Homo sapiens: one gene and its partners. The protein of the gene in region 2 purifies or fractionates together with the protein of the main gene of each other region. This does not show direct contact. Each region holds a gene or a part of one and is shown on either strand. Other genes may lie near its edges.

Region 1 (2,780 bases), on a different chromosome or scaffold from region 2:
CACGTCCTGGGGCCTGTATGCTTACTGTTCCCTCTCCTAGAATGTGCACCAAAGTTCCTCGCCTTTGTTGATTGATCCTTCTTTTCATTCAGCTCACAGATCGCCTCCTCAGGGAGGCCTTACCTGGCCACTGTATTTAAAGTGGTCTCCTTCAGTGACCCTCCTTCCCTTCTCCCGGTGTATTTCCTTCCTAGTGCTGAGTGCTCTGTAACGGACTGTTTGCCTGTGTTGGCATCTGTTTCCTCCACTAGCCTGTGGGTTCATGAAGGGCAGGGACTTTTGTCTTGTTTGTGTTGTGCCTGGAGAGTCACCCAAGGCCTGGACCACCTTGAGTTCCAAATATTTGTTGCATAAACATGTTCTAAGTTGGGATGTCTCCACTTCAGTTTTAGCCCCTCCCACAGTGCCAACTTGTACCAGTGGCCAAAGTCAGAGAGAGACAGTGAGAGAGAGAGAGAGAGAGAGAGAGAGAGAGAGAGAGAGGAGAGGTGCCAAGGAAGTATGGTTCAGCATCAAACACATTTATTTCACTTATATTGAGTATACAAGAACAGAGAGCACACGCATACAGCACGGAGCACTGAGGTGGGGGAGCATGGGGACGAGAAAGGAGAGAAGGGTGTGAGTAAAAAGGAACAGGACAGCATCGCAATTGGTTGTTAAGGTGCTTTTGAAAAAAAAAATTATTTCGAGTGATGTTGCTCATGCAGTTTCAGGCCAGTCTTGGAATGTGCTTGCAGGATTCAAAAACTGAAACAGGTCCTGGTACTTCCTGTACCCTCAGATGGAAAAGATCCAGAGAAAACAAAATAAGAGAAAATGAAGACCCATGAGATAGCAAAGTAGAAAAAGACCCTGGAGAGCATCTGGTTCTTTCTGCTTATTTTGCAAGTCGGGAAACTGAGGCCCAAGAGGGGGAATGGGGATAGCCTGATGTCACATGGTGAGTTAGGAGCTGAGCCAGGATGGTCACCCAGAACTCCTAACCGCCCTCAGGGACTTTTTCCACTATGCTACATGGCCTCCTGGGTGGAGAGGTGGCACAGAGAGGATGAGAAACAAAAAAGAGAAAAGGAAAAGTAGGTTGAAGACAGACAAGACAAACGTCTCTATTCTCTACAAAGAGAAGGATGGGGAGGAAACAGTGCCCTAGATTCTAGCTTTGCAGGTCCCCTCCTCCCTCGTGGCACTGCCTGCATCTCCGTAGAAGGGAGGTCACAGCATCCGCGGGATGGTGATTTCCCCAAACCCTGGTGGCCCATAAACTCCACAAGCTAAGCCTGGTCACTTCACCCCTGCCCCAAAGCCAGGTGCAAAATCCACAACAAGGATCCTCCCTCTGAGGTGTGTTCAGTGTGCTCAGGACTCCTGGTTCCTGCAAAGATGAGTTCCTAGACCGAAGTGGCCCAGAGAGGATGGAGCCACCACTCCAGCTCTTGACCCAGAAAGAGGGGGAACTCTCAAGAAGGGCAGGAAGAAGGTTCTGTGGCTTTTCCACCAGGATTGTAGAAAGAACCTGGTGTATGGAAAGTGTGCTGCTACACTCAGGGGGAGTTGGAGTGGACCCACCGGCCTGCACCAGGGGGAATGCCACTGATTCTGCTGCCCCGCTGAACTTCCCATTTGCCCAGAGAAGCAAATGCTATTCTGATTTCCTGCCCTGCCTCAGGCCAGCACCAGCTAAGCAGCTAAGGTGTATGTCATCACTGACAAGCCAAAGGGACGCATCTAACCTGGGCCGCCTGGGGGCATCCCTGGGCTATGCCCCGATAGGTTGGCGAGAGTGGGGAGATGCTCTCAGATGGGCCAGCCATGGTTGAAATATAAAGCTGGCTCAGGTGGCTCCTCAGGTTCCGCCCTCCCCTCCCACCTTCTTCAGCCTGAGAATAGTCCCTGGCACAAGCAGGTAATCAGTAAATACTTGTGGAATGAATTTATTAACTGGTTTAGAAGGAGGACTGGGAGGTAAAATGGAACTGAGAAATTCGCAGTGCAGTGGGACATTTTCCCTCATCAAGGGGCACTTTCTGAGCTCAGAGAAGTAGCTTGTGGCAGACAAGCCTGAGGAAGCCCACGTGTGGCAGAGAGCAATGCCAAGCTTGTGATGGGAGCTTCTTGAAGGGTTCCTGTGGTCTTGGGGTAATTTCTGGGCACAAGCTCAGAGTTCAGCTGTTGACTGAGAGGGAGGTCTCCAAGCCAAGGTCTTATGCAGAGCTGGAGCCTATGAGCAACATCACCCGTCAGTCTCAGCTTTGTCCTGGGACAGGGGAGGGCTTTGCAAATGCAGTTTTGATCTTTCAGGGTCTGCCCCATGAAGCCTCCTTACCATGGCTACTTTGGCCTGAGAAGAAGAAATGATTCAGAACAAGGAAGAGAGTAGAGGAAAAGGCTTAGCTGGGAATTTTTAGACAGTCAGGTTAAAGCCACCATCTTCTACAATGGCTGAGAGCACCACCTCCCTTTGGATATGGAGTTGGTTATTACAATGGGGTCAGGGAAGGGCAGAATGTGGCAAAAAAAAAAAAAAGAGAGAAAGAGAGAGAAGACTGAAAACCAAGGCAAGCCCCGTAGGGAGATAAGGACTAAGCCAGGGACCTCTACTGTGGCAACTTCAGCAGCAGAGTCCCAGACTGGGACCCAGTACCTGAGCACAGACCAGGCCCTGACTGTTACTACCAGGGGGGCAGGGAGAAGGTGTCTTGAACTGGCATTTTGGGGACGACATCTGTGTTGCTTCTTTCTTGCCAAACCCACACCTCTCCATTAGGGCCCCCCACCCC
Region 2 (5,628 bases):
TTTCACTCCCTCGAGGGGCAGTAACACCACTGCCCAACTGTGACAGCTCTACCATGTTAGCTCCTTGTGTCCTGTGGGTCAGTTCTGGTCACAGTGATCAGTAGCACCACTGTCCATGTGAGCGGGGGCGGGCGGGAGGGCTGGTTTCTAGGGGCATCAGTGCAGGCAGGAGCTGCCTGGTGGGGTACTGAGCTTCTGGAACAACCAGGCTTAATGAGCCCAGGGACAGAGCCTGGGAGAAGGCCCTGGGTCAGGCTTAAGGCCCCAGACTGAGAGCCACAGAGCGGCAAGGGCTCCAGGAAAAGCCCAGCCTGGCCCTTATGTGCCTTATGTGCCTTGAGGCTAACAGGCCCAGACTCAGCCCTGTTCCCTACTCCGGACATGATTCCTACAGCTCTTGCCAGCAGGCTAGGGGCGGGCTCCGTGCTCCCCAGCCCCTCCCCGAGCCTCAGGCTTTGACTCACCTGGCCCCACTCTGTATGCCTTCTTCTGCCCTCCTTGACTAAGACCCTCCAGGCTCTGTTCAGATCTGGTCTCCTGCCCTGCCAGCCCCATCCTTCATCCTGCTCCCAGGGCACTGCCCTTCCCTCCGTCACACACTCCTTACCATGTGTGCTGATGATCTGGTTAAGGGCCACCTCCCAACCAACCAAGAGCTCAGGGACAGAGACGGGTCTTGCTCACCCTGCGTCTCTAGGATCTGGCCTAGAGCAGGCAGCAGGTGTTTAATAAAGAGCTGTTGACCTGAAGGGTCCCTGTGTACAGCCCTGGCTCTTAGTGTCTGGCGCCTCTCCCTCTGCCCTTCCCACAGGGTGAACTCCCAACCCCCCATATCCGTATGCCTTTTCCTGCCTGCTTTGCCCACCAGCCAGAAGTGCTGCGGAATCAGTGCCCAGGAGCAGCAGCAGCTGGTGGCTGATGGGAACTGGTGTACAAATATCCCAGTTCCCCGGCCCCTGCTGTGAGACATATCTGAGGTGAGGTGTGTGCTTTACATCATTGCCCAGAGTTCTATGGTGGGAGCAAGCTTCACTTCCCACAGGGTAACTGGCTTGATTTCAACAACAAAAGCAAACCTTTGTTGGGTGTTTTCCCTTCCCTGCCCTCATCCTCACTCTACCAGCCAGGGACCAGGCACAGCAGGACCTACCATCAATGCCTCAGGCAAGCTGCCCTGAGGTGTGCGAGGGCATGAGGGAGGAGGAGGAAAGGGAGGGGACAGGGGAGGAGGAAGGGGAAGAAGGGGAGAAGAGCGAGGAGGTGGGGGAGGGGGAGGGGGAGGAGGAAGGGGAGGAGGGCAAAGGGGGAGGGGAAGGGGGAGGAGGGGAAGGAGGAGGGGAAGGAGGAGGGGAAGGAGGAGGGGGAGGAGGAGGGGGAGGAGGAGGGGGAGGAGGGAGGAGAAGGAGGAGGAGAAGGAGGAGGGGGAGGAGGAGGGGGAGGAGGAGGGGGAGGAGGGGGAGGAAATGGAGATGGGTGAGGAGGAGGGGGAGGAGGGGGAGGAGGGGGGAGGAGGAGAAGGACGAGGAGGTTCTCACCTGGATGCTCTTGTGTAGGAGGCGCTCACTCAGCACCCGCAGGGAGACACGCCTGCAGTGGTCCAGCTTGGCCTCACGCCACAACAGCCTGTCAGTGGACGTGTCGTAGATTGTGTAGCCGCTCATGTCCTCTTTCAGTGCCTGGAAGTCGTGCTTCAGGTCATGACCCACCACCAGCTTGCCTTTCAGGAGCTGCAGGATCTGGCCAGGAAGACATGTGCCCACCCCTACATGACCCAGCATCTTCTGGGTGGGGCTGGGGCTGGCAAGGGAGCAATCCCTCCTTGACTGGCTGTGTGACCTTGGGCAAATTATCAGTCCTCCCTGGGCTTCAAATGTATCATCTTTGAAAAGAAGAGATTGCACTAGGACCCTCCTCACACCTGATAGTTTCATTCTGTGCCAAAAGCCCACCTGGACTCCTTCAGGAGCTGAACTGTGTAGGAGCAATGGTTAGTACATCCTGAGTATTTCCCAGGTGCCAAGCGTGCCTCAACATACGTCATGTATATTATGTTGTTTAATCTTCCCAACAATTCTATTATGGCAGGCAGAATAATGACCTCCCAAAGATGTCCACACCCTAGTCCCCAGGATCTGTGAATGCATTACCTGGCAAAGAGGAATTAAAGTTCCGGGCAGAACTTAGATTGCTAATCAGTCGACCTTCAAATGGGGAGATCACCTGGCCTACCCATGTGGTCCCAACATAATCACAAGCCTCCTTACATGTGGAGGTCAGAGTGAATCCACATGAGGAAAACAGGCTGTTGCTGGCTTTGAAGATGGAGGGAGGGGCCGTGAGTTAAGGTATTCAGGCAGCCTCTAGAAGCCAGAAAGGGCGAGGAAATGGATTCTTCCCCAGAGCATCCAGAAGGAACCTAGCCCCACTGACACTTTGATTTTAGACCAGTGAGACCCACGCTGAACTTCGAAACTACAGAACTGTAAGAGAAGACATCTGTGTTGCTGTGAATCACTAAGTTGATGGCTTCCTTACGGCAGCCACAGAAAACTAACAGTGAGGAGGGAGCACTGCATTTAACTGAGTTTTACAAAGGAAATATCTGAAATGCAGAGGAGTGACATGCCCAGGCTTACTCTGATGATTTTAAAACAAGTTTGCAAATTCCTTGACACTCTTCTTAAAAAAGATGGAATCAAACTCCCCTCCCATTGCATATGGGCTGGCCTGTATGACTTCTGACTTCTCTCTGGGACCGCAATTCTATAAGAAGTCCGGCCACCAGCCAGGCACGGTGTCTCACGTCTGTAATCCCAGCACTTTGGGAGGTGAGGCAGGTGGATCACCTGAGGCCAGGAGTTTGAGACCAGCCTGGCCAACATGGTGAGACTCTGTCTCTACTAAAAATGCAAAAATTACCCATGCGCCGTGGCTATTCCCAGTTACTCGGGAGGCTGAGGCAGGAGAATTGCTTGAGCCTGGGAGGGAGATTGCAAGTGAGCTGAGATCGTGCCACTGCACTACAGCTTGGGCGACTGAGCACGACTCCGTCTCAATAAATAAATAAATAAATAAATGTCTGGCCACCCCAAAGCCACCATGCTGGAAAGACCACGGGGAAAAGCCACCGAGATAGTGATGTGTCCAAGGCAGGCCAGCACCAGCCACCAGACAGGTGGGTGAGCAAACCTTCCAATGGTTCCAGCCCCCAGCCTTCAAGGTGCCTTAACTGACGGCCTGTCCTGCTGCAGAGCACCTGCCCAAACTGCAGGTGGCCGAGCGAAATAAGTATTGACATTGTTTGAACCGGTAAGTTTTGGTGTGATTTGCCAAGCACCATTTGATAACTGGGACAGTCACACGGCTAGTTAGTGGCAAAGCCAGGCCTTGAAGCCAGTGGGATGAATCCAGAGCCCGCCTGCCACTGCCACACTGAGCCAGAAGAGTGAACGACCACTCCAGGCCTCCAGCAGCCCAGGCGCCCAGCTGTGACTGCCCCAGCCCCGCGTTCCTCGCCTCGCCTCCCACATGGACAGCCTGCCCTGCTCTGGTCACACAGGCCAGTCAGCTTGCTTTCACTCAGCTGCCGTTGGAGAGGATGGGAAGGGGACCTGAAAATAGAACAGATGTGAGCTCTATTAGGGAAAGGGGCGGCTCGTGGCTAGTCCAGGCCCACTTTGGACAGCTCTAGGACAGCCTTCGTCTCCTTCTCTGCATGTAGCCCACGACCTTAGCCTGTACACCAGGAAAGAGCCTTCTGGTGCCTAACACCTTCCCCGTAGCCTGCTTCTCCTTCTAGATAGCCAGCGGCCTCCTGGAACATCATGTGTTCCCTTTTACATGTTCTCCCCTGGCAACCACAGGAGACTGAGGCTCAGAGAGGAGATGTGACTTGCCCAGGGTCACTATGCGGGAAGCAGTCTGTCCATCCACTGTCAACAGGCAGTGTCACCAGCCTGCCCCGCGGTCCACATGGTCTGGTTGGAGGCCTTCTCTGGACAGAGCTCACGCTCGACTTAGAGGACTGGGGAGAGTGTGCTGGAGAATGAAGGGGCGCTGCTCCTGAACCACACCAGCGCTTCTCAAACTTGAGTGTGCTAGAGGTCACCTGGGAAATGGCGACAAAACTGAGGCTTTAAAAGATGACAACAGGCACACGACCTCAGAGTAGCAGCTCAAGGGAAACTCTGTGCAGAGGAAACCACCCAGCACGCAGCGGCGGGCAGAAATGGCACGGGGCGTGGAGAGATGTGGGTGTGTGGGCGGCCATGGGTCATGTGTCTTTTCTTGCTAACATCCTTTGTGCTCCTGAACAATGTGGCCTGTTTTCCCCATCTAGGGGCTTGGCTCAGGCCCAGTTCACACAAAGCCCTGAAGGAACTCATCCACCATCCCAGAGGCAGCCACAGCTGGGCACAGACGTAGAAGGTACGAGTCATCATGGTGTGGATTCCCAGGAAACCCATCACTTCCCGAGCCTGAGAGTCTGGAGAGGGGAAGTGGGGGTCTACATGAGGCACTATGTGACTCACCACGAGACAAATAGAATAAGAGGGAGAGGACAAGCCGAGGAAAGAAGAGGAAGAAGGGAAAGAACAGAACCATCTATTTAGCAAAGAGACACCACTCTTTGGGACAAAGATTCTGGGAAGGAAGAGATGCTGGAACTTGCTGTGTGACCTCAGGGATGTCAAAGACCCTCTCTGGGCTTCAGTTTTCCCATTTGTAAGGTGAGGGCCCAGACTGGTGAGGCTTGAGTGGCCCTTTAGCAGCCAGGGCTCCACAGACTGAGGCAGGTCTGAAAAGGGAAGGAGTCGGGCACCTGCTGGAGCCCAGGAGTCGGAGAAAGGCACTGGCAGGCTGGCCTCGGGGCTGTGTGACCTGCTGGCCACAGGACCTGCCCTGAGTCAGTGTCATGAGGCAAGTGTGCCAGACTTTGCCACTTTCAAACACAGGGGGAGGAGTCTCTCAAATTCCTGGAAAGAACTGGGGTGGGGCTGGGGGATGGGACATTTATTGATCTCTTAGCAGCCTGGCACTGTGCCAGGCACTTTCCTTACCTCCTCAGGAAGCTCCTCAATGAGGTTATTCTTAATTCCATTTTACAGAGGAGGGAGCCCGAGATCAGAGAGATTAAGGGGCTTGCCCAAGTCACACAGCTAGTCAGCTGAAAGCTGCAGTGCCGTGTCTGGATCCACCTGACCCCATCATTGTTACTGTAGTTGTTATTATTAGCACAAGGACCAAGGGACAGGGCACTACCAGGCACACAATGATAACGGTGCAAGGCGGTGACTTCCATACCATCTGACCCGCCAGCAAAGCGGGGCGCAGGGCGGTGTGCACCCAGGTCACAAGCAGGGGAGTGCCAGACCAGGTGCGGCTGTCTGCCTGCACACACCTTCCACTGTGTTTCCACTCTACTCCAAGTATTTCCCAGATGTGCCTGATCCAAAAATCCAGGAGGGCCAGGCCCTACACAGACCTACTGAATTGAAATATCCAGGGAGGGGTGTCAGCAACTGTTTCAGGGGATTCTTCCCATCTAACAAGTCTGCACATCTCTGCACTGAATCCCGCTGAGCAGTCCAGAGCCTGCTGCCTCTACCATGCATTCATTCATCCATT
Region 3 (3,500 bases), on a different chromosome or scaffold from region 2:
ACTTCCCTTATGATAACTAGTTAGGACGTTCATGTGACCTAATTCTGGTCAATAAGATACGAAGAGAAAAATATGTTGGTAGGCTTATGCAAAAGATGTATTTGCTTTTCCAGAGACACAGACAGAAAGAGAGAGAGAGATCCATTCCATCCTCTGGCCAGTGCATGTCTAGATGTGATCTTGCTGCTGGCCTTAGGATGACTCCAACACACAGAAGACAAACAGCCAAGAAAATCACAGAGGGGCAGACCAGAGCTCTCAAGTACTAGCTTGGAGCCACCCACCCTACCTTCATACTTCAATGTGCCATTTCAGCATCTACTGTAATTCAGCAAGCAATGTGGTTACACCAAAATAAATAGCATACCACATATACCACTCCTTCTCCAACCTGGACTTCCTGCTCCTTCAACTGAAAGTTCTCCTTTCCATTTGGACTGAGCTAGGTGAGATAGGAGGCTCAAGTGCTCCTGGTATATATCAAGGGTGTCACATTTCCTCCTTCAAAGAACAATCTCCTCTACCCCAGCATTCCTAATTGGATGGAGATGTTGGAACTATAAGAAGGCTTACCCCTTCAACCCTGACAGTACATAAAAGTTGAAAGGTAGCTTATGAAATCAGATTAGGGACCATACTGGGAAATATGTGAGAACCATAGATTGATCACCTGACTAGATAAACAATTCACTCTAAGGAATGAACCTCTGGGAATAACAGGATCTTCCTTTTTTTTTTTTTTTTTCTTAAAGAGGATGTTATTAAATAAATCTCTAAGCAGTAGTGTAAACTAGGAAAGATGATGTTTTAGAAGCAGACTTCTTTAATATATTACAATTAATAAATGGTTCTGAAGTTAGCCTAAAAAGGAAATCATTTCTCAACATCTACAAACTCTATACATTTTATTACAACTAAAACAAAAATGTCCATTCACAAGACAATCTTATAATACAGAGCTATGGCCTTTTCTTCCAGTGTGGGTCTATCGAAGAAAGTTCTATTTCCTTTTTCTTGCAAAAACTACCCCCATAAAACAACACCTGTGATTTCCAGTTTCTGTTTCTTAAACACAGAAAGACATTTTACAAACGTGAAAAATAATATTATTGCAGATTTTTTTAGATCGTTAGGTGTTTTTTGTTTTTTTTTCCCTAATCATTTAAAATTATTTAACCCTCATCTATTTCAACCATAATTGATTTTGGCTACTCACTTGATTTCAAAGTAGCCAATTGGTTCTCATACAAACGCCTTTTTATCTTCAGAGTTCACTGAATAATAATTCATTAAACTATGTGATTACAACATCAAGTGCCATAACAGTGTGTTGGGTACAAACACAAATGTTTCTTGGTAAGTCTACAGTAACTGGGGGGAATAAAAGTTCAAGATAAAACTAAAGAATAGTCTACTGTCATTCAATGTAGCATGAGCATCAGTCAGCAAATTCTACAGAGAGAATGAAGACTATCATTTAATCTCACGAGTGGGTTAAGCAGAGGTCAGGTATGAGAGATTTTCCTGTAATAGGGTGTTCCCGAGAGTCTTTGCTTGTCTACCCACCAATCCACCCTCTAAAATTCTTATCGGCAACTTCTGAAATGAAGGACAGAAGATTTACACAGTGCCTACTATGTGGCAGGCATCACATAGTCCTTGGCACTTCATATGAATTTCCTCCATTTTGATGAAGAATATAATGGCAGAATAACAGGGTAACTCTCTTCCCTTTTTTTCCAAATGTAGCTATCAACTGAAGAAAGTACTTCCAGGTAACACAAAGTGATCTAAATAAATGTAATAAATTTGAATACAACTTCAACCTCACATTACTAACCTAGAGAAAAAAAACATTAAACTTTGTATTTAAGAAAAAGAGTATCATGAGACCATCTCTCATTCCATTGAAAAGTTATGAAAAATGCGGACATGATTTAGCCATGTGGACATAACTTACTCATAAATTTTCAATAAATTACAACTATGTAATATATCATTGGTAAACAAAGCGACCAAAAAAGTGTGTCTTATCTCCCCAATACATAAACACTTCAATTCATTGTTAAGAGTTATTTCTTATAACTAAGATGATAAGCACGAAGTGGCAGGAGAGAGTATAACCAATCACTATGGTCTAACAACAAATAAACACATACTTTCCTTAGGTTTCATAATAGAAGGGAAGCCCAAACATTTATAGTTGCTAAATCTCAGCTTTCAGAGAGAGCTTAAAAAAAAGAAAAAATGTCTAACAGCAGCCTCCACCATGTCGCTAGAAGTTATATATTTCTACATTTATCTCCCATTCCATATTTCCTGAGCAGTTCAGATGCCCTTGAAAATCATTTCACATTATTAAAGCACATTTGATTTCTACACATTAAGAATCCAAGCATAGTTCTGTCCTGCAGATCAGCAAAAGGTGATGCTCTGAGGTGCCTTAAATTACCAGAACCATACTGTCTGCACCTACAGGATCCCACAATTAAAGACAGATACCTCAAAACTACCGCTTCTGAAGAAATTACATCATAAAGAACCAACACTCAGACACATACTATCAATTAATACCACGAATTGCCAACCGCTTGAGAAAAGACCAAAAAAAGGATGAAGATGGAAGATAAGAAAAAACAGATCATTGGTGGCTTAAGACTTTGAAGTCAGAAAAAAAAACTGACTCAAATATGCACTCTGCTACTTCCAAGATATATCTTCAACACATTATTTAAACTCTAGAAGACTGTTTCCTGCTCTCAAAAATGAGGTTACACCACCTAACTCAGAGTTGTCGTAATAGTATCATTTATGGCCTCTATACAAAGTAGGCACTTAATAAATTATAGGAGGTATTGTTGTTACTGGGAGGTTGAAGGGAACACAAATTCAGTTATAAGTCCTTTTTGAATACTAAGAGGGGAATAATTAGGGAAGCTAAGAGGGGAATAATTAGGAGAAGAAAAAAAAACTTCAAACAATTTTCCCTGTAACATGATTTTACTTGCATTTATAAACTGATTTTTTTTTCTAAGCACTCCTTTGATAATGATTAAGTGTGGGGTTACATTATTTTAGGGTCGTCTAATATTTAAGATGACTTAAAAACCTCACACACGTTAATCCCGAACTGTGAAAATTTCTCATCTTATCATCCCTCTGTTACTATCAATTTTCCTCACGTACAGATTCTTTTATAATTACTTCATTAAAACCACTTTCTGTGAAAATATACATTCTTTACATTTCATCTCATCCACAGCAAATCTCACTATTAACAATAATATAACTATTCAATGACCTATATTTTGTTATTCAATACTTCAGCATTCCTTCTATTTAATTTGACACATCCTTTTGGGAAGCCCTTTGGAACAAAACAACCGCTTGTTCCATTCTGAAAAACATCTGAAACAATAAACTATACCAGAATAAGTCTACTCCCAGCATGGAGAGGATTACAGGATGGATCAGAGGAGACACAGAGAAGTAACTGGAGA

What was found. Proteins that work in one complex are often made in the same cells at the same time.
Region 1: the proteins of ISG20 (region 2) and EPB41L1 purify together in Homo sapiens (affinity purification with mass spectrometry; one large-scale study listed by BioGRID and IntAct). This does not show direct contact.
Region 3: the proteins of ISG20 (region 2) and CSNK1G3 purify together in Homo sapiens (affinity purification with mass spectrometry; 2 studies listed by BioGRID and IntAct, with this or other methods). This does not show direct contact.

The regions. Positions count from the first base shown.
Region 1 is NC_000020.11:36,230,520-36,233,299, reverse strand, and holds the end of EPB41L1 (band 4.1-like protein 1), read right to left. Parts: 3' UTR 501-2,780; downstream 1-500. UniProt on the Homo sapiens protein: May function to confer stability and plasticity to neuronal membrane via multiple interactions, including the spectrin-actin-based cytoskeleton, integral membrane channels and membrane-associated guanylate kinases.
Region 2 is NC_000015.10:88,648,218-88,653,845, reverse strand, and holds part of ISG20 (interferon-stimulated gene 20 kDa protein), read right to left. Parts: intron 3,612-5,628; exon of another isoform or gene 1,932-3,611; coding exon of another isoform or gene 1,737-1,931; coding exon 1,536-1,736; intron 1-1,535.
Region 3 is NC_000005.10:123,515,177-123,518,676, reverse strand, and holds part of CSNK1G3 (casein kinase I isoform gamma-3), read right to left. Parts: intron 1-3,500. UniProt on the Homo sapiens protein: Serine/threonine-protein kinase. Casein kinases are operationally defined by their preferential utilization of acidic proteins such as caseins as substrates. It can phosphorylate a large number of proteins. Participates in Wnt signaling.